Regions from separate parts of the Homo sapiens genome. Here regions 1, 2 and 3 are each linked to region 4. Evidence: fine-mapped QTL for protein levels in blood plasma. A gene starts in region 4. Each other region holds a variant in brackets. All regions are shown on one strand. Distances are from middle to middle.

Region 1 (7,255 bases), 360 kb after region 4:
TGCATGAAAAAGATAAGCAGCAGCAACTGATGAGGGAAACATGCAGACCACATTTCTTTAAAGTAGATTTCAGTGTCTTTTAGGGTAATTTGTACTAAATTAGGAACAGGTATGATGGATGAAAGATAAAAGTGACAAACCTGATCTGAATCCAGAAGACAGTAATTAACCCGTAACTGAACCAGCTGCGCCAGCAAATCTAAAACCTGCTTCTGTAACTGCACACATGTTGTAGTCGTGTACTGTTTTAAAGCTTTTATAACAAGAGGTTCAAACAAACGAATGTGATTATGAATAGCATTCTATAAAAAAGAAAAAAAGAAAGAAAGAATCCATAAGTAAGCCTTCAACTAAAAGCTTCAAGCAAAATACCTGGAAAGTCTCAGCTCCAGTTTCCTCTCTAGCACTGACACGCCTGAGTTCACATGCCACAAACGGCACCATTTACCTTATCTGCACGGTTCTTTGTGACACTCGTGAGGTTTGTCTTCAACTGGGTAGACACTTTCTGGAGGACATCAAACCATCTGCCAAATGGGAATAAAAGGGAAGCAGAGAATGAGAATATCTTTAAATAATCTCCTCTGCACTCAGATATACTCCTGCTCAAACCAATTTCACATTCACACGATCAGAACGTGTCAGATTGAGAAACAACTTGAAAGGCCACTCAGTGTGGCAGCATCGCCCTCTTCAGATAATGACACTCTATTTAGAGTTTACAGCTGCCTGACAGCCATCAAGTCTCCTCACTCGCAGAAGGCTACTCAAGTCTGAGCTTTTTTCTGCTACAGGAAACTGACTACTCAGCCCAGTCTTAAGTGAGATTTGAGAGAAAGGTGAAGGTCATTTAAAAGATCAGTAATTTAGAAGAAATTACATGATTTTTTTGGAGGACAAGCCTTTAAAATATTTACATCAATGATATCCCTTCTAAGAAACATATATGAAATTAACCCAAACATGCACACACTCACATGCTTATTAATACCCCAAATGGTTACAGAAAGCATTGAAACAGACTTACTCCTGAAACTCCAATATATAGTAAGTACATCACTAACATACAGCCTGGAACATGGGTATTTTCCTTGACTCCTGACTCTAGTGTTTTAATTGTAGCTATTTAATCGCTAAATTTATAAAAGGAAAAACAAGGGATTCTATTATTGCTACTATACAGATTAGCAACTCAAATACCTGTTCATACTTAAGGCAATTTAAGAAGTCCTGTATACTAGGCATTAAAAACACAAACATAAATTTAAGTGAAAAGAGGCCGGGCGCGGTGGCTCACGCCTGTAATCCCAGCACTTTGGGAGGCCGGGACGGGCAGATCACGAGGTCAGGAGATCGAGACCATCCTGGCTAACATGGTGAAACCCCGTCTCTACTAAAAATACAAAAAAAAGTTAGCCAGGCGTGATGGCAGGCGCCTGTAGTCCCAGCTACTCGGGAGGCTGAGGCAGGAGAATGGCATGAACCCAGGATGCAGAGCTTGCAGTGAGCTGAGATTGCACCACTGCACTCCAGCCTGGGCGACAGAGCAAGACTCCGTCTCAAAAAAAAAAAAAACAAATTTAAGTGAAAAGAGACTTCTAGTCATAAAGCTGACAAAACACAAGGTAATATATCCAAGATGCTTCTATGGCCTTCACACACCTCTGAACACCAGCACTACTGTGCTGCTATGAAGCTGTTCTTTCATCCTTGTTACAGGCCTGAAAAGTGCCACCAACACATGCCACACCACTCTACAGGTCCTGTGCTTTGAATGGGTGGGGACATTATGAACTGCATTCTGGTTTGCTGACACACTTTGGCAATGAGAGCTGGCTGCTTCTCAGCCCACTCAGTGTTCCTCCTCCTCTACCCCCACCTCTGAGATGTGTAAGTCCCAAGCCCATCTCACTCACTGGCCACACACTTCTTGGAAGGCCGGGCTATGCCTTAAATCATCTTTGCATCAACCATATATATCTCCTAGAGTTCTCTGAATACAGCAGACTATTAGAAGATGTTCGCTAACATTTTTCGTTTTTATTCTTTTACAAAGTATTTCCTGCTTGCTCTTTCGTGCTTCCACCAACGACAGCATTCTTGCCACAACTGTTACCCCGAGGTGTCGTTCTCCTGCTCCGCCTGCACCATGTTCCTCAGGCTGGCGTCAGCGAGGGCCTGGGTGAAGTGGGTGTACGGGGCCATGAAGCAGTAGTGGTACAAGCCTGGCCTCACACTGGAGGAGCCAAGGCGCTGTGCTCGGCCTTGTGACTTGCTGGGGTTGGAAGATAAGCCATCAAACTGGGAGGCCAAGTTTGTGCCAAAGAGAGTCTTCAACAACTACAGTGAAAAAAATGAGGCATCAACAATGTGGCGTGAACAACACTTTTAAGAATCTCCCACACAAATATCAAATCCATCTGTAAATAACTGGATATGTTAGCAAAGACTCACAGCGTGAAATTCTTCCTGTGAATCACTATTAATACCTCATGAGATATTGTATGAAGTGCTGTTTGTACCTTAAATAGGCGTTTTGGGTTTCCTTGCAATTCTAAATGAGATTGAGCATTCTAAACAGAAACTCCGAGGGACTGGAAGTTAACTAGCGAGGTTGCAGAGGAGCTTCTGGTGTCCTCTGCCCTCCACAGTGACAGACCTCGTCCTCCTGGGGAGTGAAGGGAAGGATGGCCTCTTGGCTCAATCATGGACTGAGCCAAAAAGTGCTGCGCTGGACCCCACAATCCTCCCAGCTGATTATGCCAACAGCGCCTGCCTCTTAAGGAGTAGCAGCGTTTTGCTGTCATACCCGAACGTCTTAACAGAAGAGGAAAAGAATGAAGCTCTTACTTGTTGAACACAAACAGTTGCCATCATTGGTTCTCGACTAAAGCAGGATTTCAGGTATCCTAGGATCTCTTCAACACACTGTAGAAAGACAAGTGAGACATTAAGCGACTCAGAGATGACCCGTTATTGTACGAATCCTAGACAGAAATTGAAGGTACAAGATAACTTCCATTTAAATTGTGTAAATAGTAGAGGAAAATCAGAGGAAAGTTTTCAATTTCTTATTTTGAACAGTCAGTAAAAAGTCTTGAAATCCAAGTTATATACATTACAACCATTCTTTCATGCATTTATGTATCTGTTCATTCACTCATTAATTCAATAAACTGTTATCAAGTACCTGTTGTCTATTAGGTATCCAGTCCTGTTCGCAGGGCAGGAATTCAGAAGTGTGCAAAGCAGCTAAGAGCCCTGCATCTGTAGAGCCCCTGAATATGTTCAGTGAACACAACTATGATACAGCAATGTGTGATTTACCACAAATCAGTCCTAGAATTGTCTTAAAATAATCTGCAAAAATGACCAAATAACTACCTTAATGTTACTCTTCTCACAAGCATTTTTATCAACATCTATAACGAGATGTA[C/T]AGCACCCAATGTCCTTTTCAAGAATCAAGAAGGGGCTGGGAGTGGTGGCTCACGCCTGTAATCCCAGCATTTTGGGAGATCGAGGCAGGTGCATCACTTGAGGTCAGGAGTTCAAGACCAGCCTGACCAATATAGTGAAACCCCATCTCTACCAAAAATACAAAATTAGCCAGGCGTGGTGGCGCACACCTGTAATCCCAGCTACTTGAGAGGCTGAGGCAGGAGAATCGCTTGAACCAGGGAGGCAGAGGTTACAGTGAGCCGAGATGGCGCCATTGCACTGGAGTTGTTACCTGGGCAACAAGAGCGAAAGTCCATCTCAAAAAAAAAAAAAAAAGAATCAAGAAAGAAGAAGATGCTAACTCAAAGAGCGCCACCATTCTGAATGCCTAGATACCTAGGCATTCAGAATGCACAGCCTGTTTCACCACTGCCTGGCTAATCACGAACTGGTTTCCATCAGCTGCTAAAAGCCAACACCAATTAGACTGAAAATGCCTCTCTCTCCACTTGTTTAACAAAATATCCTCTACTAATAAGCAATAGATTCTTGTTGGTTTCAAATACTCAAGGGCCACACATTTTTAAAATTCTGATATGCTCAAAGTATATTCTAAGTGTTTAAGGTTGTTCTTGTCAGAATTGAATTTGTCACACACCACTTTTTGTTTTTACTAGCTCCCAGCAGATACCCAATACATGTTAACTGAAAAAATTACAAATAGAACCTGTGAATCACTACTTGTCTAACAAAGGACTTTAACAAATGTGTATGGAATGCTTGATGTGCACCAGAAACTGAAGCCCTGGAAAAGGTGAGAAAGCATGCTGTTTCTGGCCTTTCAAGAGCTCCCCAAGTACCAGGGAACCAGGGCTCTGCTACAAATACTAATATCTAATGTAATAGAGTGAGACTTCCACTACTGAGCACAATGAGGGTGAGGGACTGGGTTTACCCTCCTGCCTGAGACAACCAAAGCAAACCAAAAAACAAAACAGACAAAACCCAGAGTCCTCAAGACACTGGACATGAGCAATGAAGGACAGTGATCCCTGGGAGACGAGAGACTAAGTCAGCCCTATGGCTGCCCCAACTCGCTGCTTTGAGAGAGTTCCTAGGCTGTGGCACAAGGAGGAGGGACAGGCAACCCTCTGAATTGAAGAGGTGCTGAGAATCTAAGGAGACCAAGACAGCCACAGTTCATAAGACAGAGCACCAGAGAAGAGAAAACAAGACAGAGAGAGCTCTGGAGATCTGGGGAAGGTCCCTCTCGAGTACTCAGCAGAGATATGTGTGTGAGAAAACTCCCTGAGGCCAGGGAAAGAAGCATTGGAAAGGATTAGAAGGAGCAGAGCTCAGCGCTCACACAGGGCTAGAAAGTCACTGTTCTCAGCAGGCGGACTGGAAAACCCAAACTTTCTGGTTCATTAGGTAGAGTACTCAGGATGGTCTTGCCTCCTAAGCATGGTACCTAATTATTCCTAAAGAGGAATAATTAGTCCAAAAAAAAAATTAGTCCTAAACTAAGCACTGCTCCAACCCATCTGACAAATTATAAAGCAAGACCCAAAAGAGTAAACCATCTATATGTAACTCAACTAACCTCAGAACAAAGCTCAAGAAGATCTATGGGAACACAAAAATATATAGCATCCAACAAAGTAAAATTCACAAGGTTGGGCATCCAATAAAAAATTGGCAGCCATACAAAGAGGCAGGAAAATACAACCCAAAACGAGGAGTATCAATCAACCAATGAGAAACACCAAGAACTGGGAAGTTATTAGAAGATCTTAGAACTAGCAGAGAAGGATATTAAAACAGTTATTACAATTGTGTTCACAAAGCTAAACAGAAACACAGGGAGACATTTTTAAAAGACCTAAATCAAACTTCTAGAGATAAAAACAAAATTAGTGATATACACTGAACAGGGGCCAGACACGGTGGCTCATGCCTATAATCCCAACACTTTGGGAGACCGAGGCGGATGAATCACCTGAGGTCAGGAGTTCAAGGCCAGTTTGGCCAACATGGTGAAACCCCATCTCTAATAAAAATACACAAATTAGCCAGGTGTGGTGGCACGTGCCTATAGTCCCAGCTACTCGGGAGGCTGAGGCAGAAGAATTGCTTGAGCCTGGGAGGTGGAGGTTGCAGTGAGCTGATATCGCACCACTAAACTCCAGCCTGGGCAACAGAGTGAGACTGTTTCAAAAACAAAAAAAAAAATACGCTGGACAGGATTAACAACAGATTAACAGATTAACAACAGAGTAGACACTGTAGAAGAAAAGATCAGAGAACTTGAAAACACAATAATAGAAACTATACAAAACAGAAAACACATAAAACAATCAAACACTGAAAAGAGCATCAGTAAGCTATGGGACAACACTAAGCAATCATTCAGGAAATCACAGCCCCTTTAAGAGAGGGAAAAAAGGAGGGAGGCAGGGCAGAAAAAAAATCTTTGAAGAAATAATGGCCTAGCTGGGTGCAGTGGCTCACGCCTGTAATCCCAGCACTTTGGGAGGCCCAGGCGGGCAGATCACGAGGTCAGGAGATTGAGACCATCCTGGCTAACACAGTGAAACCTCGTCTCTACTAAAAATACAAAAAATTAGCCAGGCGTGGTGGCAGGCGCCTGTAGTCCCAGCTACTCAGGAGGCTGAGGCAGGAGAATGGCGTGAACCCAGGAGGCAGAGCTTGCAGTGAGCCAAGATAGTGTCACTGCACTCCAACGCAGGCGACAGAGCGAGACACTGTCTCAAAAAAAAAAAAAAGAAAGAAAGAAAGAAAGAATGGCCTAAAATTTTCCAAACTTTAAAAATACTATGAAGCCACAGACCCAACCTCAATAAACCCAGGCACAAGAAACACAAGATATAAAAAAACTACATCAGGGCATATCATTATCAAATCACCCAAAACAGACAGTATAAAGTCTGTCACCCATGCTGGAGTGCAATGGCATGATCATGGCTCTTTGCAGCCTCAACCTCCCAAGGCTCAAGCAATCCTCCCACCTCAGCCCCGAGTAGCTGGGACCACAGACGCATGCCACTGCGGCCAACTATTTTTGTTTTTCTTTTTGTAGAGACAGTTTCCCGGTTTGCAGATAAAGTCTTAAACCAGACAAAACATATAAAATGGAACAGTAAGGAGTTACATGAAAAATCGTCTATAATATAATGCAAAAGAAAAATCCAATGCATAATACATTTCAATTATGTATAAAAATGAGTATGGAATAAATAAGGATTAGAAGACAAGAAAAAACATTACCTGTCAAGAATGTGGAATTATTATTTTTTATTCCTAGTGTTGCTATTTAGAAAAAGAAAATGATTCTATTTTAATTCTAAAGTCTCTGTGCCTTTAAATCCTGGAACTAGGTAAACTCACAGAAGTCTGAAGAAAACCTGCTCATACCCGTCGCCACATCAAGCTCACCTCTCCAGCTACACTTGTGCTCAGACCTCAACACCCAGCCCCGCACACATGCAGAGGCCTATGCATGTTGGTGCAGGGGCTCTGATGCCTTCACCTAAGCAAGGTCACAGATAAGGCTCAATAGTTTGTATATCTCAAGCCTGGCCTGACAATCTAAGCATCTGGATATCTTTCCAGCTGCCTCAGAACTGCTGTGTGGCAGAAAGAGATCTGAAACCTTGCCATGCTGTGAGTCAGTGAGGGAGATTCCTCAAAACAGTCAGGGGCCAAGTGCAAACAAGAACCTGTGAAAGCTTCTACCCTACATATCCCCCTCTAAAAGACCACGGATAAAAACTCAACAATTAAGCAGGTGAGGCT
Region 2 (7,255 bases), 270 kb after region 4:
ACCAAAGGCCCAGCGTGTGAGGTCACAAAGGCATGATGGACAGAGTCCTTGAAGCACAAGACGGACCAATGGATTCTCCTGAAATGAAGTAGAAGTTCATTGATAGGGTATCAGATTCCACACACAACCGGCCAGTAAAAAACCACCACCTGTCGGCCGGGCTAACACCTGTAATTCCAGCACTTTGGGAGGCCGAGGCGGGTGGATCACGATGTCAGGAGATTGAGACCATCCTGGCTAACACAGTGAAACCCCATCTCTACTAAAAATACAAAAAATTAGCCAGGTGTGGTGGCGGGCGCCTGTAGTCCCAGCTACTCAGGAGGCTGAGGCAGGAGAATGGCGTGAACCCGGGAGGCAGAGCTTGCAGTGAACCCAGGAGGCGGAGCTTGCAGTGAGCTGAAATCGCGCCACTGCACTCCAGCCTGAGTGACAGAGCGGGACTCCGTCTCCAAAAAAAAAAAACAAACCACCACCTGTCCAGTGTTGGAATAGGATCACGGAAGAATATACCGATTATTTGCAAAGGTTATTAAAATGTTCCTTTTCTTTTCAAATACACATCTGGGTAAGAATGAGCTTCTCCATTCACTCCTATACTTCACAACCAAAACACCCCCAAAGTGGACGGACCCAGAGCCTGCTGAGAGGCCAGTGGGCTTCTCTTAAGCCAGAGATTTACGACCATGTAAAACTATGCCACACTTCTCCCGAAAACTTTTTGTTTTGGAAAATATATTTTTCATACAATTGTTATTTATGTTAATATGTCATGGGTTTATTGCTATTTTGAAATGAATACATGTTTTCTAAAGGTCTCAGGTTTAATTTCTAATAAGATATTCTAATGTGTATTAATATTGGTCATTAGAACTCACATAAGCAAAAGTTCTTTGGCACTTTTAATGAATTTTATTTTATTTTATTTTTATTTATTTATTTATTATTTTTTTTTGAGACAGAGTCTCGCTCTGCTGCCCAGGCTGGAGTGCAGTGGAGTGATCTCAGCTCACTGCAAGCTCCACCTCCTGGGTTCACGCCATTCTCCTGGCTCAGCCTCCCAAGTAGCTGGGACTACAGGCGCCCGCCACCACGCCCGGCTAATTTTTTGTATTTTTAGTAGAGACGGGGTTTCACCGTGTTAGCCAGGATGATCTCAATGTCCTGACCTCGTGATCCGCCTGTCTTGGCCTCCCAAAGTGCTGGGATTACAGGTGTGAGCCACCGCACCTGGCCCACTTTTAATGATTTTTAAGAGCGTTGAGGGGTCCTCAGACCAGTTTGAGGACGGCTGCCGCAGGGTGGCCTGTCTAGGAGTGGCACTGACCAGAGGAAATGCGTTTCTTCAGCTTTAGGACGGGACACCAAATTGCTCCTGGAAGCGGCTGCACCACATCCCACCAGCAACGCAGGAGTCTCCATTTCCCGACGTTCGTCCTGGCCTCCAGCAGCCACATGATCTCAGTCTGCGGTTCCAACTCCCCGACTCCGAGGGAGGCCGAGCGGTCTTCTCACGCTGACTGGCCTTGGACTTTTGGCCCCGTTCTTTTTTCATATGAATTTAAACATCATCGCGTCCATGTCAAAACCAAGAAGTGATATTATTGAGACTATGTTTGGAATGACATTAATAAAATGATGACATTGACTTTGGAGCTTTCAGGAGTGTGCGAAGTTTCTCCAGCGCTCAGGTATTATTTAGATTTTTCAGTAAGACTGCATAGTTCTCTTCAGTAGAGGTCCTGTTCCTTCTGGGTTAAATTCATTCCAACTCTGAATGGGATATTTCTTCATCCTCATTTTCAACAAGTTTAAGCTGGTTTAAAGAGCTCCCAGTCTTTTGTACATTTGGCTTTCTGGGTATACAAAAATGAAATCTGAAAACAAAGGTAACTCTACTTTCTTCATTTCTTATCCTGCTTATTTTATTTATCTTTTTTTAATTTTTTTTTTTTTTTGAGACCGAGTTTCACTGTCACCCAGGCTGGAGTGCAGTGGTGCAATCTCAGCTCACTGCAACCTCCGCCTCCCGGGTTCAAGCGATTCTCCTGCCTCAGCCTCCCAAGTAGCTGGGATTACAGGCATGCACCACCACGCCCAGCTAATTTTGTATTTTTAGTAATGACGAGGTTTCTCCATGTTGGTCAGGCTGGTCTTGAACTCCTGACCTCAGAGGATCCTCCCGCCTCAGCCTCCCAAAGTGCTGGGATTACAGGCGTGAACCACCGTGCCCGGCTTTTGTTTATTTATCTTAATGCATTAGCTAAAAACGTCAAAACAACATGAAATACTACAGGTGAAAAGCAAGCACATCTGCCTGGCTCCTGATTCTAGTTTTCAATGTTAACATGCTGCTTTGCTGAATCTTATCAAATATTTTAGCAATGGCTGAGATCATTTTTTTTCTCCTTAATGGACCAACAACTAAGGAAGAAATCAGAAAGTTGTTAAGGACATGCTGCTGATGAAAGGCACCAACCCCACGATATTCTACAGCTGAGTTCTGCTGACATGAGGCGATGCTGCTCCAGCCTGGAGAAGGTCGGGCAGCGCCTGCCCCTTCTCTAAGGTGATGGAAGGGCATGAATCACTGACTCTGATTAGAGAGGGCGAGAAGAAAACAGACCAAACCACTTCTAACCCAAGCACAGCAGCGACTCGCGGTGTGCTGTCCCGGATGCCTGGCAGTTACTGAAGTACCGGTGCGTCATGGCTGACTCTACAGCAGTTTCAGGGTGAAGAAGTTGCTACATCATTTAGAACCTCCATCTGTTATGTCTTGTGGGAGCGTCCAGCCTAACCTTCCTGCCAGGGCCGCGGGCACCCTTCCCTCTCGAGGGCTTGTGACTGGCTCCCTGTTAGGAGGCTGGGGAACCCCACACTGGCCCCATGGGAGCTGCTAGCCAGCCTCAGTGGTCAGCAGCTGGGGGCAGGTGCCTGTGTCATGGCTGGGTTCCCAGCATCTAGGGTGGCACAGGTGTCCAGTTGGAGCCCAGTGTGTTTGTTAAGCAAATGATTTCTTGGGTGGTGTCTTGCCTACGAGGCGGGTGGGTCCCGGAGCTGGAAACTGGCTAGAGCAAAAGCTCCCAAAACTCAGGCCCGCATCAGATGTGCCCGCATCCTCTGTCCT[C/T]CTGGGGCCACCCTTCCTTCTGCTTCTCGGCAGGTGCTATGGCAGCCACACTGGCTTGCAAGAGCTGGCTCTGTGCATCTCTTCTCAACCACAGGGTCAGCGGCGTCATCTGGCAGCTGGAAACTGGCACCGTAGCGCTGGCTGCTGCTCCCTCCTCCCACCACTGCCGCCGCTCCTTACACCCTCACGACACTCTGCCTCTCATCCCACAGCAACATGGGCCGAGTCCTCGGCACACAGGCTCTGGGGAGATGGCTGAGGAGGGTGGGAGCTCCAGGACCCTCAGAGTGAAGTGAATCCTGCTTGCCCAGCTCCCCTTTGGGCTCCACAGAACACGCCGGCCTCTCCTTCACACAGGCAGGCCGAGGGCACCCTCCACACCACCATGGTCCACAGGCTGGTCCCACACCCAGTGGAGTCCAAGCTGCTCTCTTGCCTGGCTGACCTCAAGACCCCCTAGAGGGTAGGATGAGCTGCTGCTGCTTGTCGCAGGATGACTGCAGCACTGCCTGGCAGGATGCCTGCTGCCACACCTGCCTCTGCACCTGTCTCCACGGCCTGCTCGCTTGGCAGCCAGAGGGAGATTTTTCTGAACCCTGAGTCAAACCATGCTGTTCACCTGCTGACCCACCTGCCAACAACCTTCTATTTGGGCAGCAACTTGCCTAATTCCAGGAGGTGACTCAAACACACCTGGCCCCAGCCTCCTTTGCAGCCAGGGCAACCAGACGCCCGAGTCCCGGCCAAGGAGGCTCATAGAGAATTCAGCTTTGGGAAAGCTGGAGCTTCTAGAAAGAGTTTGAAACTGGTGGAAGGGCCGGCAGTGAGGTGAGCTTGCAGCTGTGGCCGCTCCACCACCCCTCTGTCCCCCACCGATGTCAGACCCAGAGCTGCACTGGCCAAAAGACTCCCACTAAGCTTGAAAAGCATGAACACTCCTCCCCACGGGCTGCACGGGCTTCCGTGGCCTGGCTGCTGGCCACCAGCCTCCTAGCTGCTCCTGGGCTTGCTCCAGTGTCCTCTGCCTCTGGGCCTTCGCACTGGCCGTTCCCTGTGTGGCCACTGTTCCCAGCTCCACGTATGTCTGCCTCCGTGTCCTCAGGCCAACCCCTCCCTTCCAGCACTTATCACAACCTGCAACCATTTCTCTACTGACCCATGTGTCTTCCCCGCATGGGAGCATAAGCTCCAAGAGGCCAGGGCCTTTGTGTCATCCACCATGATATCTCCAGCACCCAGAACACTCAACAGGGCTGTGCATGTGAACAGGTGTTACGACTTTTATTAGTGTCATTGCTAAGGAGGCAGTGGAAACACCTGATGCTCCAAACAGAGCTGAATAAAAGCCTCCTGGAAGGTCGCTGGGGTTTTCATCAGGCGTCAGAGGCCATTTAAGGAGAGACGCAGAGGTCCTGGTGAGGGAGGACACAGGGTTCCCTTCAGGAGAGAGCTCCCCCAGCTCCAGCCTGCCCCAACCCGTTTCCATCTGCTTTCATTTTCGGGATCCATCAATCAGGGCATCCTCACCAAGCCAGCAACAGCAAACTGTGCGTTCCAGGCAAGAATGAAAAAGTATACGTTTAATATCAAAGCCACGTCAAGTATCATTGATAGTAACGACACTGGAGAGTGGCTCTAGGACGTTCTTACTCGGAGTGAACCCCAGAGGCCCTGGCCTGTGTCCGAGGAAGGGCATTCATGCTGGAGACTGGAGCCTCACGGTCCCCAGGGCCTGGGGGTTCCTCAAAATACCCCTCAGAAGGGACATCCTGCCAGAGGCCAGGTGGAAGGCGGTCTCCGCTCGCGGGGCGGCCCCCTTGCCCGCCTGGCCTGAGTGGCCTGCCCTGGGTGGCCTGAGCAGTACCACCAGCCGCCCGGCCCCGCCGCCGCCGCCGCCTGCTGGCCTAGACGCTGGACTTGGTGATGATCCTCTCCAGCAGACTCATCATGCGCTCCTGCAGCTGCAGGCTCTGCACCTGCAGGATGTGCTGCTGGTCCAGCACGCGGCGCACCTCGCGGCAGGTCTCCTCCACGGCGCGGCTCAGCCGGCGCTGCTCCTCCACCATGGCCTCCAGCAGCCGCAGCTGCTTCTTCTGCAGGTGGCAGCTCTGCACCTTGCGCTTCTTCACCGGCCGCTCCTCCGACCTGGAAGGACAGTGCCGGCTGTGGACGTGCTGGCCACAGAGCCTGGGCACACCAGGGGCCTCACCGGACCCTCCCGACAATCCTACTGGGCAAATGGGGAAACTGAGGCCCCAGGGAGTCAGGTCACTTACTCAGGGTCTCATATTCCATGTGCAAAGGAGGGGCCAGAACCCACCGCCTTTGACAGAAAGTAACAGGGGTGGCCGGGTGTGGAGGCTTATGCCTGTAATCCCAGCACTTTGGGAGGCAGAGGCAGGTGGATCACCTGAGGTCAGGAGTTCAAGACCAGCCTGGCCAACATGGTGAAACCCCATCTCTACTAAAAATACAAAAATTAGCCAGGCGTTGTGGCGGGTGCCTGTAATCCCAGCTACTCGGGAGGCTGAGGCAGGAGAATCGCTTGAACCCACGAGGCGGAGGTTGCAGTGAGCCAAGATCGCGCCACTGCTCTCTGCACAAGAGCGAGACTCCGTCTCAAAAAAAAAAAAAAAGAAAAAGAAAGAAAGAGAGGCCACAGGCATTGCCGTCCTTTGCGACTAGCGGATGACCCCAATGACCAGGGTCCCAGGACAATCCACACCCCTTCGGTCTGGAAAGGGTGGGATGTTCTGGGCTGCAGAGGGGCATATCCTGCCAGGGAGCACCCTTCACCCACCAAACTGGGCAGGTGGGGGCTCAGCCCCAGTTGGGGGCCAGGGGTGGAGAGACCACCCCCAGGGAGAGATGAAGGCAGGGGTGGGGGGTGCTGGGTAGTGCAGAGTACTCAGGACCCCTGTAGGGAAGCCAAGACCACCAGCCCCACCCGGCCTTAGGCAGATGGGGAAACTGAGGTCCCAGAAGGAAGGGCCTGAGATGTGAGCCCCCTTATCTCCCGGCGGCCTAGAAATGGGGCCGGCACACCTTGGTAGAGAGGCAGAAGGACAGGCACCTAGAGGGTGTGGGGCCCACAAGAGGCCTGGGCTCTCTCCCCAGGACCTCAGAGCTCTGGTAGAGGTGGTGAGTAAAGGCAGTCCAGCCCTGTGGGCGCCTCCTGAGAGCTCTGCTGCTGGGGTAGGGGCCACCCGTGGTCTCAGCAGACCTCCCTGAAGGGCAGGGAGCTGCCAAAACCCACAGACCCCAGGGCCCTGCTCCAGTGCCTGCTCATCCCTGGCCCACACTCTGCTCTGAGCTGAGAGGGTACAGCCAACCTCAGGGGCGTGAGATCCGCGCTTTGGGCCTGATCAGGGAGGGCAGCCCCCACGCCCCAGTCCTGTGCAAGGCCCCAGGCAGCTGAGTCTGAGAACTGGGCTCAGTCCACGGGAACAACAGCCACAAATCTCAGGCCTCCTGCTGGTTCCTTCTAGCTGCCAGCAAAAGCGTTTTTGTCTCAGGTCTTCAATGAGAAATCCTGAGTCAAGCAGCGGCCCCCGGCATGAGAGGGACCCTCCTCGGAGACGCCTTCTCTACTAAAGATACTTTTCTGACACCTCCTGTCAGAAAGACTTGAAGACCAGGGCAGGGGAGAAGCTGTGACTCAAATCCACAATCTTCCTGTTCTTGCCTCCAAATGGCCAACTTCTATTTTACCTTGAAAGCCCACCCCAAATGTCCCCTCCTCAAAAGCACCTTCTCTGGGCTCCCCAGGCCCACCCCGCAGGTGTCTGTCCTGCATGCTGCCTGGCTCCCGGCTGCCCTGTGAGCATCTTGCAGGCACAGTCACGTGGCCAGCACGGGACGGGTCTGAGGTGTGGGATGGATGGCAGAGGGGACGGGTCATGCCCACGGCAACACGTGATGAGGTGCAGCCCGACACCCTCCCCAGTGCTGAGAGGGCAGCTAGCCTGTGAGGGTGGGGTCTGTGTGGGCTAAGGGAGGCCAGGGGGCGCATTCTGGGGTCTGGGGCTTGGTCTCCCTCCGTGTGCCGGGCCCCATGCTGCGTCTTCTCTCCTGTGATGCTCCCAGCCACCCTCTGAGAAAGGTACTGATTTACCCCCATTTTAT
Region 3 (7,247 bases), 16 kb after region 4:
TTAATGTAGTGAGTGGTGCCGTGGACGTGCCTCTGTGATTAGAAAGGTGCCCTCGTGTGTGGGGCTGGGCTTTCACCCTGTGCCTGGGAAGGGTGCGGGGCCAGGCGCTGGGACCCAGCAGGGCCTGGTGGGCTGTGGCAGGGTGTTTACCTGCCGCAGCTCCCCCATTTCCAGCGGCTCCTGCTCCAGAACAGTTTCTCTGGATCACATTGATTTGGGGTCAACAGTTAGACTTCTTGTACTAGCCCAGTCTCAGCTCAATGTCCTTGGCCAGGAGAGATGGAGTCGGTAGAAGGGGGCAGAGAGGGAGAGAGGGCCCTGTGTGGCCTCCCTGGACGTGTGTGAGCCACGTCATCTCACAACCAGGAGGCAGGTGGGATGACAATGAGGGGCTGGCAGAGGTCCCCCTAGGAAGGTGGCCTTGCTGTCCTCACCACCTGCAGCCGGGAGAGCCAGGCAAGCCCGGGGTCACCGGGCTGCTGCCCTGTCCCCCTCCTTGGGATCTTCTGCTCCCCACCCCAGCCAGCTCGGTAGCTGTCCCCTGTTGAGCCTGGACACGTCCAAGAGAAGGGTGGTTGCCTGCCGGCAGCTCTTCTCCGGTTTGTTTTTTGTTTTCCTGCCCTTCGTGAGGCCAAGAACCTGGCCTGGCACTCACGTAGGCAAGGGCCTGCCTGGCCATGAGGAGTGGTTGGCTGAAGAGCGGCCCTGGCCACACGAGCCCGCGGCGGGTTCACTCCAGGCCTTGTTTCCCTCTTAGGCGAAGACCTCTGGGAAATTCTCCGGCGAAGAACTGGACAAGCTCTGGCGGGAGTTCCTGCATCACAAAGAGAAAGTTCACGAGTACAACGTCCTGCTGGAGACCCTGAGCAGGACCGAAGGTGCCCCCCGCCCCCACCCCCTCCTGCCCTCTGCCCCACCCCCTCCTGCCCCCCACCCCTCCTGCACCTGAGGCTCGTTGTGCTCAGTGGGCAGCCTCAGCTCCCCTCAGGAACACAGCAGGGGCAGGGAGGCGGCACCAGACGCCCTCCCAGGGTTCCACCGGACTTGTGAGTGGGGAGGTTGCTGTGCAGGCAGGCTCTGGGAGTCGCCTGCCTGCATTGGATGAACCAAGTCTCACCGGCGCCTGCCCCCACTATGGGCACAGCTGCTGCCTTTGTCAGACCTGAGCTTCGCTGATGGGTCCTTCATTCTGGACTCGTGACCCTCCCCAAATGTGTGACTTTCCCACCCCACAAAGCTGGAGTAAAATGGAGGGTGACCCAGCAGAGAGGGGGCAGGGCAGGGGTCCAGAGTCAGCCCCCAGGGGACCTGGTGCCCCAGCTGTCACCGCCAGGCGCCACTTGGTGCGCGTGTCCCGGCGTCTCGCCTGTCTCGCCTGGAAAGGAAGCTGTGCCAACGGTCGTTTCTGCGGCGCTGCAGGACCGCGGAAGGGGGACATTTTCAGCCCAGAAATGAGAGCGAGTTTGAGCTCCCCAGCAGTGGGCGTTCTAGACAGTGGTCTGGGCAGGCAGTGCGAGGACTCCCAGCCTCATGGCGTCCTGCCTTCGGTTTTACAGAAATCCACGAGAACGTCATTAGCCCCTCGGACCTGAGCGACATCAAGGGCAGCGTCCTGCACAGCAGGCACACGGAGCTGAAGGAGAAGCTGCGCAGCATCAACCAGGGCCTGGACCGCCTGCGCAGGGTCAGCCACCAGGGCTACAGCACTGAGGCTGGTGAGTGCCCGCCCGGGACTGTTGGTTCCCGAGGGTGGGGCCGTCTCTGGTTGTGTTTTGGGGACAAGCAGGCAGGTGCTTGTAGCGACGGGAACCTGGGCCTGTGGACGCAGCGGAGACCCTCGGCGCGCTCAGTCTACCCACGGGTGGTCACAGGCCTCGCTCCCAGGAGCTGCTCCGTGAAGGTCACTCGCCGTCCCCAGCCTTGTACCTGGAGACTAGCAGAGGGCAGTGGCGGCAGCGGGCCTGGGAGCAGCCCTTCCCAGCGTCTCCCCAGCCTCAGCAGCACGGCCCCTCCCGTGCTGCTGTTGGCCAAGAACAGAGACCACTCGTCAAACATAGCTCCGTCTCCATCTCATGCCACCCACACCGTCCATCAGTCCCCCTCAGCCCGGCAGGGGCAGGACGCCCGCTGAGGCCACAGAGCTTGTGGCTCCGTCTCAGCAGCTCATCTCCCTCCACTGCAGGCCCTCAGTGGCCAGGCTCTGCACCACTGCTTCTTGCCCCGTACCCGGGCCAGAGCCTTGTGCAGGGTGTACCAGAAGCCTGCTGGCCTCACTCACGCAGCTTCCGATTCTGTACCTCATCCTCCACGTGCACACTGAGCACCAGCTGCACGCCAGGCACTGCTCTAGGCTCGAGGAGACAGCAGCCGCCAGGAGATGGCATCTGTGCCCTCATGGTGATAAGACAGCAGGGCTGGTCTCTGTCCCCGGTGCCAGGCAGAGCCACCGCCTCGTCTCCAGGATGGTCTGCCCAGAGGCAGCCTCCAGCACAGCAGTCAAATGTGTCCACGCGGGCCCAGGTCCCCTTGGGTGGCTGTGCTGCTGTCACCTGAGTGCCCTTGGGCAAGACCCCTCACCACCCACCCCCAAACCCAGGCTCCCTTAGCCTGACCTGGTGCTGGTGACTGTCAGCCGTAGGCTTTTGGCCGTAGTGCTGGGGGCTGGACCACCTTGTAGGCCTGCGATGCAGTTTGCTGAGTTCCTGTGCTGGAGAGACCCGGATGAGCCTGGCTATAGTCCATGCAGGAAAGGGCGACTCAGCCCCACACACTTCTCTTCCCACCTCGGGCTGTCCCCAAGGCAGTTGTGTCCAGCGGCTCCTGCAGTTCTCTTGCGGGTCTGCCTGGGCCTTCCAGCAAGCCCCACCAGCCCAGGGTCCTCGGGGTCCTGAGCAGGAAGGGGTCAGCAGAGGAGGGAGCAGGGGCCACTGTTGCGGGGCTCCATGGGCAGGCGGCTCTGGACTACTCACTCCTGGTTGGAGAGTGGTGACAGCCCCGGAGTCTCTCACTGCGTCCCTTCGTGAGCACCAGGGTCCAGGAGCCGTCTTGGTTTGTTTGGCTCCTCCCAGGAGCCCGAATGTTTGACTTTCACGAGCACAACATCCTGCTGGAGACCCTGAGCAGGACCGAAGGGAAACGGCCTGTGCCTGCGTCTGGACCTGGCTGAACTTGCAGGTGCCCCCACCCGAGGTCCTGGCAGCCTCTGCACACAGGCCACGTCCATCCTCTGCCTCCTGCTTCAGAGGCAGCCAGGGCGGGCTGTGGCGCTTCCCAGGCTCTGATGGAGGCAGGTGTTTCTGGACACAAAGGAGAAGCAGTTGTTTGGCCAAGGGGACAGAGAAGCCACATTTCAGCGAGGTCATGTGAGCTACTGAGCAGATGCCCTCTGTGCCCCATAAGACTTTGAGTGCACGCACCCGTGTTTCACACACATGCAGGTCGCGCCTGCAAACCCTCATAGGCTCCACGCACACTCAGCGTGGTTGCCGCGGGGCTGGCTGTGGTGTGCACCCCGGGTGCTGCTGAGGCCACTCTTGCTCCTCCCCTGCAGAGTTCGAGGAGCCCAGGGTGATTGACCTGTGGGACCTGGCGCAGTCCGCCAACCTCACGGACAAGGAGCTGGAGGCGTTCCGGGTAAGGAAACACGGCCCTCTCCTTCTAGCTCTCTCCTGTGGTGAAGATTCTCTTGCAGTTTCCGGGTAAGGAAATGCAGCCCTCTCCTCCAAGCTCTCTCTCTCAAGATTCTCGCAGTTTCTTCCTTAACCACTCGGTGAACCTGCTTGCGTTTTCCTTCTCATCTGCGTGGGAACTCGTGTTTCAGGGGCGGGGCCAGGCTCTGGAGGGAGGGGCTTTGGTTCTTTTGTCCGTGTTCACGTCTGAGCGTGGCCTTGGTGCGGGTCCTGTGGATGGTCAACAGTTGGTCGGGACCCAGCCACAGCCTGGGGGGAGGGGACCAAGGACACTACCGGGATCGTTTAGGGGTGTCACCACTTCCTGAGATGGAGGCCCAGGGAGGGAAGGAGACCACCTCAGGTGGCAGGGGCTCCTGGGGCGTGTGGAGTGCCAGATCATTCTGAGGGTGGAGAATTCATCAGCTCGGTGAGCACCCAGCAGGGCTGTGAGGAGTGGGGAGTCCATCGGGGGTCCTGGGTGGGCAGCCTTGAGTATGGTATCCGGCCATGAGTTCACCCAGGGTCCCTATAGCTGGTGTCTGTTGGGAGGGAGGTGGGTGTGGTCCTGCCCTCATAGGACTTGGGACTTTCCTGGCCCCAGGAAGGGCCCTTAGCACCTCCCCCAGAAAGGGGTCAGGAGCTTCCCTCTGGGGCTGGGGCACCTTAGCTGGCCGCAGGCACGTGCATGGGGCTTGGCAGGTGGGGCCACATGGAGGGCCCTGGGTCTGGAGCGTGGGGTCAAGGCAGGGCAGGGCACCTACAGGAGCAGGGACAGAGCTGCAGTCCAGCAGCAGTGGAGCCCAGGCAGGCTGGGGGCAGGGTGCAGAGGCAGCCACCACAGAAGCACAGCCCCTGGACATGGGGTCTGGCTGGGAACGAGCTGGAGGCCCCCTAGATTCGGGGGGCGGGGGTGCCATTTGCAGAGACAGGGAAGGGGTCGGCTTAGGGCTGCCAAGGAGGCGCGGGCTGGGACCCGTTGCTAGTGTGATGGCCTCCCAGCTGCCGCCCCCTCATTGCCCATGTCACCGCAAGGCCTGTCCTGCCCCGGGTATGGCGCCGTCCTTTGGCGTCCTTGCAGTTCACCCGGGACCACAAGATGGCGTGGCGAGCACGGGAAGGGAACACTCACCTATGGAAACCTTGTTCCAGGAGGAGCTCAAGCACTTCGAAGCCAAAATCGAGAAGCACAACCACTACCAGAAGCAGCTGGAGATTGCGCACGAGAAGCTGAGGCACGCAGAGAG[C/T]GTGGGCGACGGCGAGCGTGTGAGCCGCAGCCGCGAGAAGCACGCCCTGCTGGAGGGGCGGACCAAGGAGCTGGGCTACACGGTGCGCACGGGTTCCAGGACCGGGGAGGCCACAGTTCCCCTGCAGGAAAGATGAGGCCGCCCACATGCAGCTCAGGGCTTCCTGTAGATGGGGTGTGGGCCCCACGCTGCTGTCTTCCCTGTCCGAGTTGAACCCCAGGGCCACAAGTGTGTGGGGCACTGAAGGCCACAGCAGCCATGCTAGGGGAGCCCCCCGGGCTTGTAGTGCAGTCCCCCGACCCTCAGGTGAGAGCGCAGGCCCCGGCGGGCCACTGCCTCGTCCTCCTGTGACCAGGATGGGGCGTGACCTGGATACCCACAGCCAGCCCATGAGTCAGGGCACTCTCCAGCCTTTGAGACAGGCGAGCCTCCTTCCCCACAGCCCCTGGGATGTGAGGGGAGGAGGGGCAGAGCCCAGGAGAAGCTGAAGCCAGCGCACAGCCTTGCCACAGAGGCACAGAAAACCCTGGAAGCTCATGCCAAGTTCTTTCTGGAGGGAGCTGGGGCTCAGGAGCCCCATCTGTGCCTTTTAAACTTTGAACTGCAGGCATGTGTTACCGATTCAAAAATAGCAAAGGCCTAAAAAATAAATGAAGGTAGAAGTTCTGATAGGAGAGGGTGGTGCGGGTCTGCCTGGCAGAATGTGCAGGAGAGCAGCCTGTGGCCCTTGCCCGTGGGCAGGAGCTCAGGTCCAGGGTGAGCACCACCATGTGGGGTTTGCAGGGCGCTCCCGCGAGACGCGGGGATGGAATGCTAGCGTGCACCTAGCTTCACCTGACCACGGCAAAGCTCGGTGTTGGTTAAGAAAGCCGTGTGGCACTGCCTGAGGCACCCGCACCGTTGGGGCAGAGGTCAGGGCCGCTGAGAGAAGGGACCTTCGGTGAGTTATTCACCCTGAGCCACGGGCTTCTATGTGGAGAGGGAGGTGGCGCCCACGAGCAGGGTTTTGTGAGAATCTGGGGAGAGCTACAGTGACCCCAGCCCAGGCTGGGCTGACGCAGCACCTGCTGCCACTGGGGTGGTATCTGTGGGGATGCTCTGGGCTGTTGTGATGTGAGGAGCTGGAGGTCCCTCTCCTTCCCTCCCAGGCCCTGAGGAGGAAGGCGCCTTTCCCAGAGCTCTGTCCCAGTCTCTCTGGTCATTGCTTTTAAAAATAACACTGTGGGGCTGGGCACAGTGGCTTACACCTGTAATCCCAGCACTTTGGGAGGCTGAGGTGGGTGGATCATCTGAGCTCAGGAGTTCGAGACCAGCCTGGGCAACATGGTAGAACCCCATCTCTACCAAAAGTAGAAAAAATTAGCCGGGCGTGGCGGTGGGCACCTGTAGTCCTAAGTACATGGGAGGCTGAGGTGGGAGGATCACTTGAGCCTGGGAGGCAGAGGTTGCAGTGAGCTGAGATCATGCCACTGCACTCCAGCCTGGGTGACAGAGCGAGACCCTTTCAGTAAGTAAATAAATAACACCATGGGCCTATCACAGAGACCCTGAGCTTTCCACTTCAGCATGAACTGCTCCTGGCTGGTGGCTCTTAGCGTTCTTTGGTGGGATTTTCTAGTTAGTACTGAGCTGCTTTTGTGATTTGAGCATTTCTGGATGGGTGTGGAATTGGAAAGTCAGATGTGCAGGGCTTGCGCCTTTTCCTTTTGGATCGCGCGTCTCCTGACATGAGGCTGAGCTCACAGAGCTGGCCTCGAGGCGCGCTGTCCCCAGCTGATGAGACGTTTCTGTCCACAGGTGAAGAAGCATCTGCAGGACCTGTCCGGCAGGATCTCCAGAGCTCGGCACAACGAACTCTGAAGGCATTGGGGAGCCCAGCCCGGCAGGGAAGAGGCCAGCGTGAAGGACCTGGGCTCTTGGCCGTGGCATTTCCGTGGACAGCCCGCCGTCAGGGTGGCTGGGGCTGGCACGGGTGTCGAGGCAGGAAGGATTGTTTCTGGTGACTGCAGCCGCTGCCGTCGCGACACAGGGCTTGGTGGTGGTAGCATTTGGGTCTGAGATCGGCCCAGCTCTGACTGAAGGGGCTTGGCTTCCACTCAGCATCAGCGTGGCAGTCACCACCCCAGTGAGGACCTCGATGTCCAGCTGCTGTCAGGTCTGATAGTCCTCTGCTAAAACAACACGATTTACATAAAAAATCTTACACATCTGCCACCGGAAATACCATGCACAGAGTCCTTAAAAAATAGAGTGCAGTATTTAAACCACCCGCTTGTTGGCTGGTCACTAAGTGTCCTGGTGGCTGGGGCCGGAGCCAGTGCTCTTGAAGGGA
Region 4 (7,255 bases):
GAGCACCAGCATTCCCACTGGTCTCTGCTTTTCCTCAAACGCATCTCTGTGTAACTCTCCCCTCAGGATCACTCTGTGGCCCCCATTGCTCTGGGTGGAATCTTCCTTCCAGTGGCGTTTCAGTCCCCTGGGTCTGCCTCACTCTTCACCACCGTCTTGTGCTTCTGCACTGAGCTCCAGCCAGACCACCTGCCTGCAGCCACCTGGCGCTACCTGTTCCCGTGTGCTTCCTGCCTTTGCCTGGAGAGAATAACAATCTATAGTCCAAACTCAAGGACAAAAACAAACTGCTTTTTGGCCGTGGTGGCATGAAACCCCAATAAGTCAATGACAATGCTGCATGCTTCTGAAAGCCGGCCAGTCAGGGACAGCCCCACACTACAGAACAGGCCCAGGCAGCAAGAACCTTGTGCCCCTGAAGTCAGGCTGAACACTCTCACTTCTGAAAGCTGGACAATCCTCAATGCCAGGCTTCCCAAGAGACTCAATTTGTTTTGCTCTGAGAGATGGTCCTATAAGCACAGTTCCCCTTTTCTCTCGTAAGCAAGATACTCAGCTTCAGCACTGACCAGCCTCACAATCCGTCCTCACCAAGTGGAGGGCCCTCCCTCCGGGTTCCTCCACGGCCGTATCTGTCTCTGTTCATACACCTTCCCCTCAGCACTTAGAGACACGGGCTGGCATGGCGGGTGCTGGCGGCAGGGGTGAGAAATAAACTTTCAGCCCTAGAGGAGGAGCCCAAGAGGAGAGCATGCCGTCACCTGGAGTCTCTGGTATGTGCCTGGCACCTGTACTGATTGCATTAACCACTGTGATTTTTTAGAAGATGTACTAGTTTGAAATGTATAATACATACGGAGAAGTGTATGAAATATGTACAATTTAAAGATAAGGAAAAATGCATGCCTGTGTGCCCACCACCTAGTGAAGAACTACAACCTGGACACCACTTTGGAAGCCTGTCTGTGTTCACCCGTCGCATTCTCCCTCCTCCCCCAGCCCAGGTATCCTCCATCCTTTAGCCATCCCCTGACTTTCTTTAGTTTCATTGCCTGTGTATGCAGCCACGAATAAAATATTGCTTAGTTATCTGGGAAACCGGGCTGTATAGGAAAAGGGCTCTTAGAACCCCACACCACTGTCAGATGCAGGATCCCAGAAGACTCTGCTCCCAGTCCAGCTTCCAATTCCTGTGGGTTTATAACGGGCCTTTCTAGAGACACTGGGGGCAGGATTCACAGAGCTGGAACATTTGCAGTTAGGACCACATTCCAGATGACCAACAGGGACATGCTTGGGGGGGATAGGCCAATTTGGACTATCCCCTTCTAAGCCCACCAAGACCTACCTGTAGCTCTCAGGAGTGGGGTCAGGGCAAAACATGTATGTGGGGTAAAACAGGTGACCTCTGATTCTAGGCACCAGGAGATGGAGAGAAGAGCAGGAACGAGGGAACACAAGGGGAAGGCAGGCACAGGTGAGAATCTAGGCCAGGCTCACCTGGCCATTCTGTCCTGAGGCTTAAAAACATGCAATGATGGCAATGACAGCATTTGATCTGTCTCTGGAGTCACTTCGCATGAGGTCATTCTCCCTCCACCACCCTCCTGGGGGATTCCTTTACCTCCTCTCCCCCATACATCCCATATTGGGAACTTGTGCTTCCAGCTAAGATGCAGTAACAGACTGAATTTACCCTCTTGCCTGAAACAACTCAACAGCTGGAAAAAAAGAAATGAAACGATGGCTCTGAAAATACTAGAAAAGCAGCACAGGACAGAAGCAGATCACCTTGATTCCAGGGACCTGAAATCTTCTCTGGAACAACACAAGATACAATTTAAATGTAAATTAGGGTAGGCCCAGTGGCCCACGCCTGTAATCCCAGCACTTTGGGGGACCAAGACGGGAGGGTTGCTTGAGCCCAGGAGTTGGAGAACAGCCTGGACAACATAGGGAGACCTAATTTCTACCAAAAAATTTCAAAAATTAGCTGGGCGTGGTGACACGCACCTATAGTTCCAGCTACTTGGGAGGCTGAGGCAGGAGGATCGCTTTAGCCCAGGAGGTCGAGGCTGCAGTGAGCCATGATCATGCCACTGCACTCCAGCCTCGATGACAGAGACCCTATCCCCCCACGCAAAAAAAGGAAATGAATTAACATTAATTCCTCTCAAGATGCCCAGGCTCTATTCACCCCCTTTGTCATTGTCCCTCCAGTTGGAAATTCCTCCCTCCCCCCGCAAAATCCCGCCCACCCTTGGAGGCCTTTTCAGATCATTCTTGCCAGATGAGCTCCCCTTGTCCCTTCTCTGAGCCCAAAGGGGCCCAGCTGCTGTCTGTCTCCCTCCTTCCCCTTGTTTCCCGCGCTACCTCCAGGGCACTTCCCAACTCACTGGCCAAGCCCCCAACGAGCGGTCTATGCTAACTTTGGCTCTGTGAATTTCCTAGAGTGTCATGGGTTGGGGAAAAGCGCGCGAAGTCCTGCCTTGCAGCAGGCGCGAGAGCAGGCGCTTGGGACGCGGGTTGGGGCAGGGGCCCCGGGACGTAGGGGGACGTCTGCGCGGCCCTGCGTCCCCGGGACAACCTGGCCTGGGCTTACCCACGGCCAGGCGCTCCGCGGAGGGCAGAAGCGGGCTGGGCCAGGCTCCTCAGCGCCAGGCCCGGGCCGCAGTGCCAACCCCGCAACGGCACTGGACATGCAAGAGTCGGCGTCAGTGCGCGTGAAGCCGGAGCATTATCAGGCTCAGCCAAACGCGGCCCGGTTCTTGGGCTTTCCGCTCTTTCTGTGGGGCAGAGAGGGAAAGAGGCCTCGAGTCGTGCGGGCTCCAGGCTCCGGGCTCTGGGTGAGGCCTGATCCCTGCTCCCACCCGGCCACCCTCATTCTCCAGTTGTATCCCCTGCCAGAGTCTGCAGCCTCGGGCCGCGGCGTGGTTGCCTGGGAAACGCTTGCGCCTGCGCAGGGCTTCCTAGGCGCTGGAGTCCGCCGGCGGCCTCGCCGCTGCCGGCCGCTCACGGAGGAACTACAATTCCCAGGAGACCGCGCGGTGGGTGGGGGCGGGGTAGTGGGCGGGGCATCGGCAGGCTAGGTTTTCTCCGCGCAGCGCCAGTCGCAGAGGAAGATGGCGCCGCGGAGGGTCAGGTCGTTTCTGCGCGGGCTCCCGGCGCTGCTACTGCTGCTGCTCTTCCTCGGGCCCTGGCCCGCTGCGAGCCACGGCGGCAAGTACTCGCGGGAGAAGAACCAGCCCAAGCCGTCCCCGAAACGCGAGTCCGGAGAGGAGTTCCGCATGGAGAAGTTGAACCAGCTGTGGGAGAAGGCCCAGCGAGTGAGCGCGGCCCGCGGTCGGTGGAGCGGGGCCTGGGGGCGGGGGCCGTGGTTGGGGTCGTTGGAGCGGGGCCCAGGGGTCGGAGGCGGAGGGGGGCGCAGCCGGGGCACCTGTGCCCTACGCGCCCTGTCCTTGGCACAGCCTCCCCCAAGTGTCAGGTGGGGCGCCCCGACCCCTTCTGCAGCAGGAAAGGTACCCGTGCCGGCGACGACGCCGTGTGAAGCAGGTGGCGGCCGGCACCCCGAGGGTCAGTGTCGCCCTCCCCAGCCTGGGCGGCCTGCTGACCCGAGCGTAGGGACAGAACCAGGCTAGATCACAGGTCTCCTGCCTCCCGAGCCTTTGCCTGTTCCCTCAACCTTATCTCCCTATGTGGGGAAACAAGAAAAACAAAATGTTGGGTAGAAAGACGTGTCCAGGGACAGAAGGAATCCCAGTAGCAAGCCCGTGCTTGTTCATTTGAGCGAGAAATGAGGAGGTGAGGAGATGGGATCGGTTTAGAGCACATAAAACGCGACCTTGGGAATGCTGAAAGTCAGTCTTAACAGGGCGCTCACCTGACCTCTCCTTCATTTGAGAGATGAGGGTACGGAGGCCCCGAGGGGAAAGGGCACCCCCAAGGTGGCTCGGCCGGTGGGGCCCCCCGGGACAACAGCTTCCTAATTGGTGCGTGACCCTGGGCCAGCTGCTCTCTTCATTAAGATACGGTTGCTTCATTTGTTAGGTGTTCCTGAAAACACCTGAAATGGGTGTTTTCGAACTATGCCGACCATCTGGGCCTCATTATCTCATCTCAAATGCAGGAGTCAGATTAGATCTCTGTCTCAATAGTCCAGTTTTAAGCATTCCTGAGTCTTTGAGAGGGAAAGTAAGTGATTTGCAGAATAAGAAGGAACTTTTGGAACGAAAAGGGAGAGGAGAAACAGGTGGGGGACAGACAGACGACAGACGGTTATAAGACTGCGTGGGGATGGGGATTGACGCCTGGGCATCAGCTCCACAGGCCCTTCCTGAACTGCTCCTGGGACCAGCAGTCAAGCCCCAGGCGTAATGTTCAGCCTGCGGAGGTGGGAGGTGGGAGAACGCTCTGGGCTGGAGCGGCAGGGCGGCTTCTTGGAGGAAGGGATTCTGGAGGGGCTGGGGACACGGCTGGGTTTGGATGTGTTGATGGCCTCCCAGCAGCAGGGAACAGGTGTGACCAGGAGCAGCCGGGATGCAGTGCTGCCTCCCCGTGCCCACTGCACTGGGCATCTGTTGAGTGGGTGGAGTCCCCCCTCCCCATGAGGAATGGGGAGCCCGAAATAGACTCCCTGACCGATTGGAGGTGGCGCTGAGGAAGTGCACTCGGACCCAGGAACCCCAGCGGCTCCCTTTTGGGTGCTGGCCCAAGTCTTCCACCTGCTCTGCAGGGCCGCCCTGGTGCGCTCCACCTTACCTCCAGCCACCTCCAGCTGGTCCTCTGTCTTTGTCAGCCCAGGCCTCCTGCAGCAATACACCTGCCCTCAGGCTGCCCCTGCACTGGTCCAGCTACCCTCGGGCTGCCCCTGCACTGTCCCCCGGTGCTGGGTGCTCGCCTGACCAGTTTCAGTCTTGGGTTGGGTCATGTCTCCTAAACCTCCCTGAGGTTCACTGGGCACCATGGTAGGGCGAGCTGCTCACCTCCACTTTGGACTGAGCCTTGGACTAGATGATCTTTCTGGTCCCTTTAAGTCCTGAAGTTCTAGTTGTGTGGGCAAGTCTTTTTTGCTGAACAGAACGTGAAGTTCTTCGGGGGTGAGGGTGTTTTGGGGGATTTTGTGTGTCTTCCCCCATTCCAGAGAGCCTGGTACTATGGCAGGCAGGCCTGCAGAGCCCATTCGTCCTGATTTTCCTTCCAGATAACGGAAGCTTGGAGGGTGGCGGTGCTGTGAGGGTGTTCTATCCTGGAGCCAAGTGTGCAGGCGTCAGACCCGTCCGGGTCTTTTTGAGGTTCTCAGTGGCGGTAGTGCATCCCGGGTGGTCTTTGTGCTGTGGCTCTTTCTGCCGAGCGTGCCAGGGCCCAGGGTGGTCAGGAGGCAGGAGGAGCCACAGTCAGTTCAAACGTAGGGGGAGAGAATTGTTCGTGCAAATAGTCACTCCAGTCGGCTTCTTACCCCACCTGACTCGCCGCTCTAGGTAGGTATCAGACGGAGACGGGGTCTTGGATCGCCCCCTGGAAGATAATTGAGGTGAGGGCTGCTTTTTCAGAGAAGCACTTCCTGCCCGGCTCTGCAGCCACTGCTCTCAGCCTCCTGCGACCTGCGCTCAGCAGCCAGGACGGTCTTGTCCTTTCTTTGGTTTGCTTCATGAAAACATCGTGTCCCTGTTTTCTGCATGTAAAGCCACATCCTGGCATATAGGATTGCGTAGTGTGTCAGTAGGCATAGGGTGAAGGGAGCGTTTCAGGAAACCTTTGCCTTTGATGGGCTTGGGCTGTGAGACCTGCGTTGAGGTTGCCGCCAAGAAGATGCTGAGACCCGCTTTCATCAGGCGAGACCCGGCCAGGGGGGTGCTGCTTCATCCTCTCCAGCAACTTGAATCTTGACTTTCTGTGACTCTCCCAGTTCCTCTTTCACAGGCGGGCTCCACTGTGTTGCAAGACTCCTGAGCAGAGGCTGTCCCTGGAGCTTTGGAGGTCAGAGGCCATGCAGAGCCCTTGTGCTCACAGACGACTTCTGAGGACTCTGCCTCTTCAGAGCTCTGTGTGTTGTGTTGATGCTGAGGAGTAAGCTCCAGGGTCTGCATGGTCCAGCTGCGGCGCTCAGGGACACACTCGTGTACCTCTTGGCCTGGGCTGCACGGTGCCATGAGCTCGGAGTCCTTGGCCATAGGTCCTTAGTTTTTTTGGTTTTTTGTTTTTTTGTTTTTTTTGAGACAGAGTCTCACTCTGTCGCCGAGGCTGGGGTGCAGTGGCGTGATCTCGGCTCACTGCAACCTCCGCCTCCCAGGTTCAAGCGATTCTCGTGCCTCAGCCTCCTGAGTAGCTGGGATTACAGGCATGCACCACCATGCCTGGCTAATTTTTATATTTTTAGTAGAGACGGGGTTTCACCATGTTGGCCAGGCTGGTCTCGAACTCCTGGGCTCAAGTGATCCTCCCGCCTCTGCCTCCTAAAGTGTTGGGATTACAGGTGTAGTCCCAGGAGGCACCGCACGCAGACAGTCCTTAGTTCTGACGTGAATGGTGACTGCAATGAGAGTGTGTGAAGCATCTTGTTCTCAGAGGTCTGACGAGTGGAAACTGAGGTCTGCAGAGAGGAGCCCTCAGAGCCCCACCCCAGCTCTCAAGCGTCCCCCCTGGCTTGAGAAGGGCCTCTGAGGATGGGCCAGCCAGTGGCCTCCATGGGCACCTAGGACTCGCCAGGCCAATGCATGACCTCACAGCAGCTCAAGGCGGGTACGGCTGTGCCCTTGTCCACGGAGCTCAGGTGGAAGGAGCTGGGGCACAGTGGCTGGGCTGGGACAGTGCATGCCACCTGCCGTGGTGAGACAGGTACAGCGTGCCAGGAAGCCTTGGTCACCGCCACAGCCTGCTCCTCATGGTGGGTGCCTTGCAGTCTGGCGCGGGCACTCAGGTGAGCGCTGGGAGGATGGCACATGCCCTCTGAAGAGGTGGTCCATTGGCGGTCCTGGTGGCATTGGAACCTGCCCAGCCTGAACTGTGCGGTGTGTGCAGGTTGACACCAGTGGTGTAGCTGTGGACCCTGGCCTGGGTTTCCTGGGGCGTTGAGAAGCAGCAGCAGGTTATTGGAAAGTTCCAGAAAGCTCTGCTGGCACGCGGGTGGTGCTGTGTGGGGAAGGGCCACTGCTGAGGTCCCAAGCAGTGCTGGGCCCTTGGGTCTGGTCAGGAGGACACGGTCGGCTCTGCTTGTGTCTGGGGACACAGGACCGGCGTCGTTTGATCAGCTGAGCCG

Alleles and levels. Positions count from the first base shown, and alleles are read on the strand shown. Strength reflects both the effect of a copy and how common the allele is. Not every link is listed here.
In carriers of allele T in region 1, the plasma level of the protein whose gene starts at base 3,113 in region 4 tends to be lower than with C alone (weak association).
As copies of T replace C in region 2, the plasma level of the protein whose gene starts at base 3,113 in region 4 goes down (moderate association).

The links. A credible set is the group of variants that fine-mapping cannot tell apart. PIP is the chance, under the fine-mapping model, that this variant and not a neighbour inherited with it causes the effect. The UK Biobank Pharma Proteomics Project read protein levels with antibody pairs (Olink). The fine-mapping took linkage between variants from a reference panel, not from the people measured, so its PIPs are less certain.
Region 1: its variant is the best candidate, but not a certain one, in a credible set for the plasma level of the LRPAP1 protein (UK Biobank, PIP 0.55).
Region 2: its variant is the best candidate, but not a certain one, in a credible set for the plasma level of the LRPAP1 protein (UK Biobank, PIP 0.88).
Region 3: its variant is the best candidate, but not a certain one, in a credible set for the plasma level of the LRPAP1 protein (UK Biobank, PIP 0.63). The variant lies in the coding sequence of LRPAP1. If it changes the protein, the assay may bind it differently, which can mimic a change of level.

Annotation. Positions count from the first base shown.
Region 1 is chr4:3,167,993-3,175,247 of GRCh38, reverse strand. It overlaps HTT (huntingtin), which reads right to left. Exons shown (of 67, transcript NM_001388492.1): 30 at 2,851-2,928; 31 at 2,117-2,340; 32 at 449-527; 33 at 141-302. Among named protein-coding and RNA genes, the nearest start is that of MSANTD1, 78 kb to the left of the region's middle. The variant C/T (reference allele first, on the strand shown) is at 3,438.
Region 2 is chr4:3,253,745-3,260,999 of GRCh38, reverse strand. It overlaps MSANTD1 (Myb/SANT DNA binding domain containing 1), which reads right to left. Exons shown (of 3, transcript NM_001042690.2): 3 at 4,387-5,275. The coding sequence ends at 5,035. Among named protein-coding and RNA genes, the nearest start is that of MSANTD1, 8.2 kb to the right of the region's middle. The variant C/T (reference allele first, on the strand shown) is at 3,131.
Region 3 is chr4:3,512,502-3,519,748 of GRCh38, reverse strand. It overlaps LRPAP1 (LDL receptor related protein associated protein 1), which reads left to right. Exons shown (of 8, transcript NM_002337.4): 4 at 758-878; 5 at 1,557-1,715; 6 at 3,551-3,633; 7 at 4,821-4,997; 8 at 6,713-7,247. The coding sequence ends at 6,775. Among named protein-coding and RNA genes, the nearest start is that of LRPAP1, 16 kb to the left of the region's middle. RefSeq lists enhancers at 2,936-3,555, 3,821-5,020. The variant C/T (reference allele first, on the strand shown) is at 4,916.
Region 4 is chr4:3,528,280-3,535,534 of GRCh38, reverse strand. It overlaps LRPAP1 (LDL receptor related protein associated protein 1), which reads left to right and starts at 3,113. Exons shown (of 8, transcript NM_002337.4): 1 at 3,113-3,326. The coding sequence starts at 3,123. RefSeq lists silencers at 2,874-2,933, 3,374-3,623 and enhancers at 3,124-3,333, 6,491-7,255.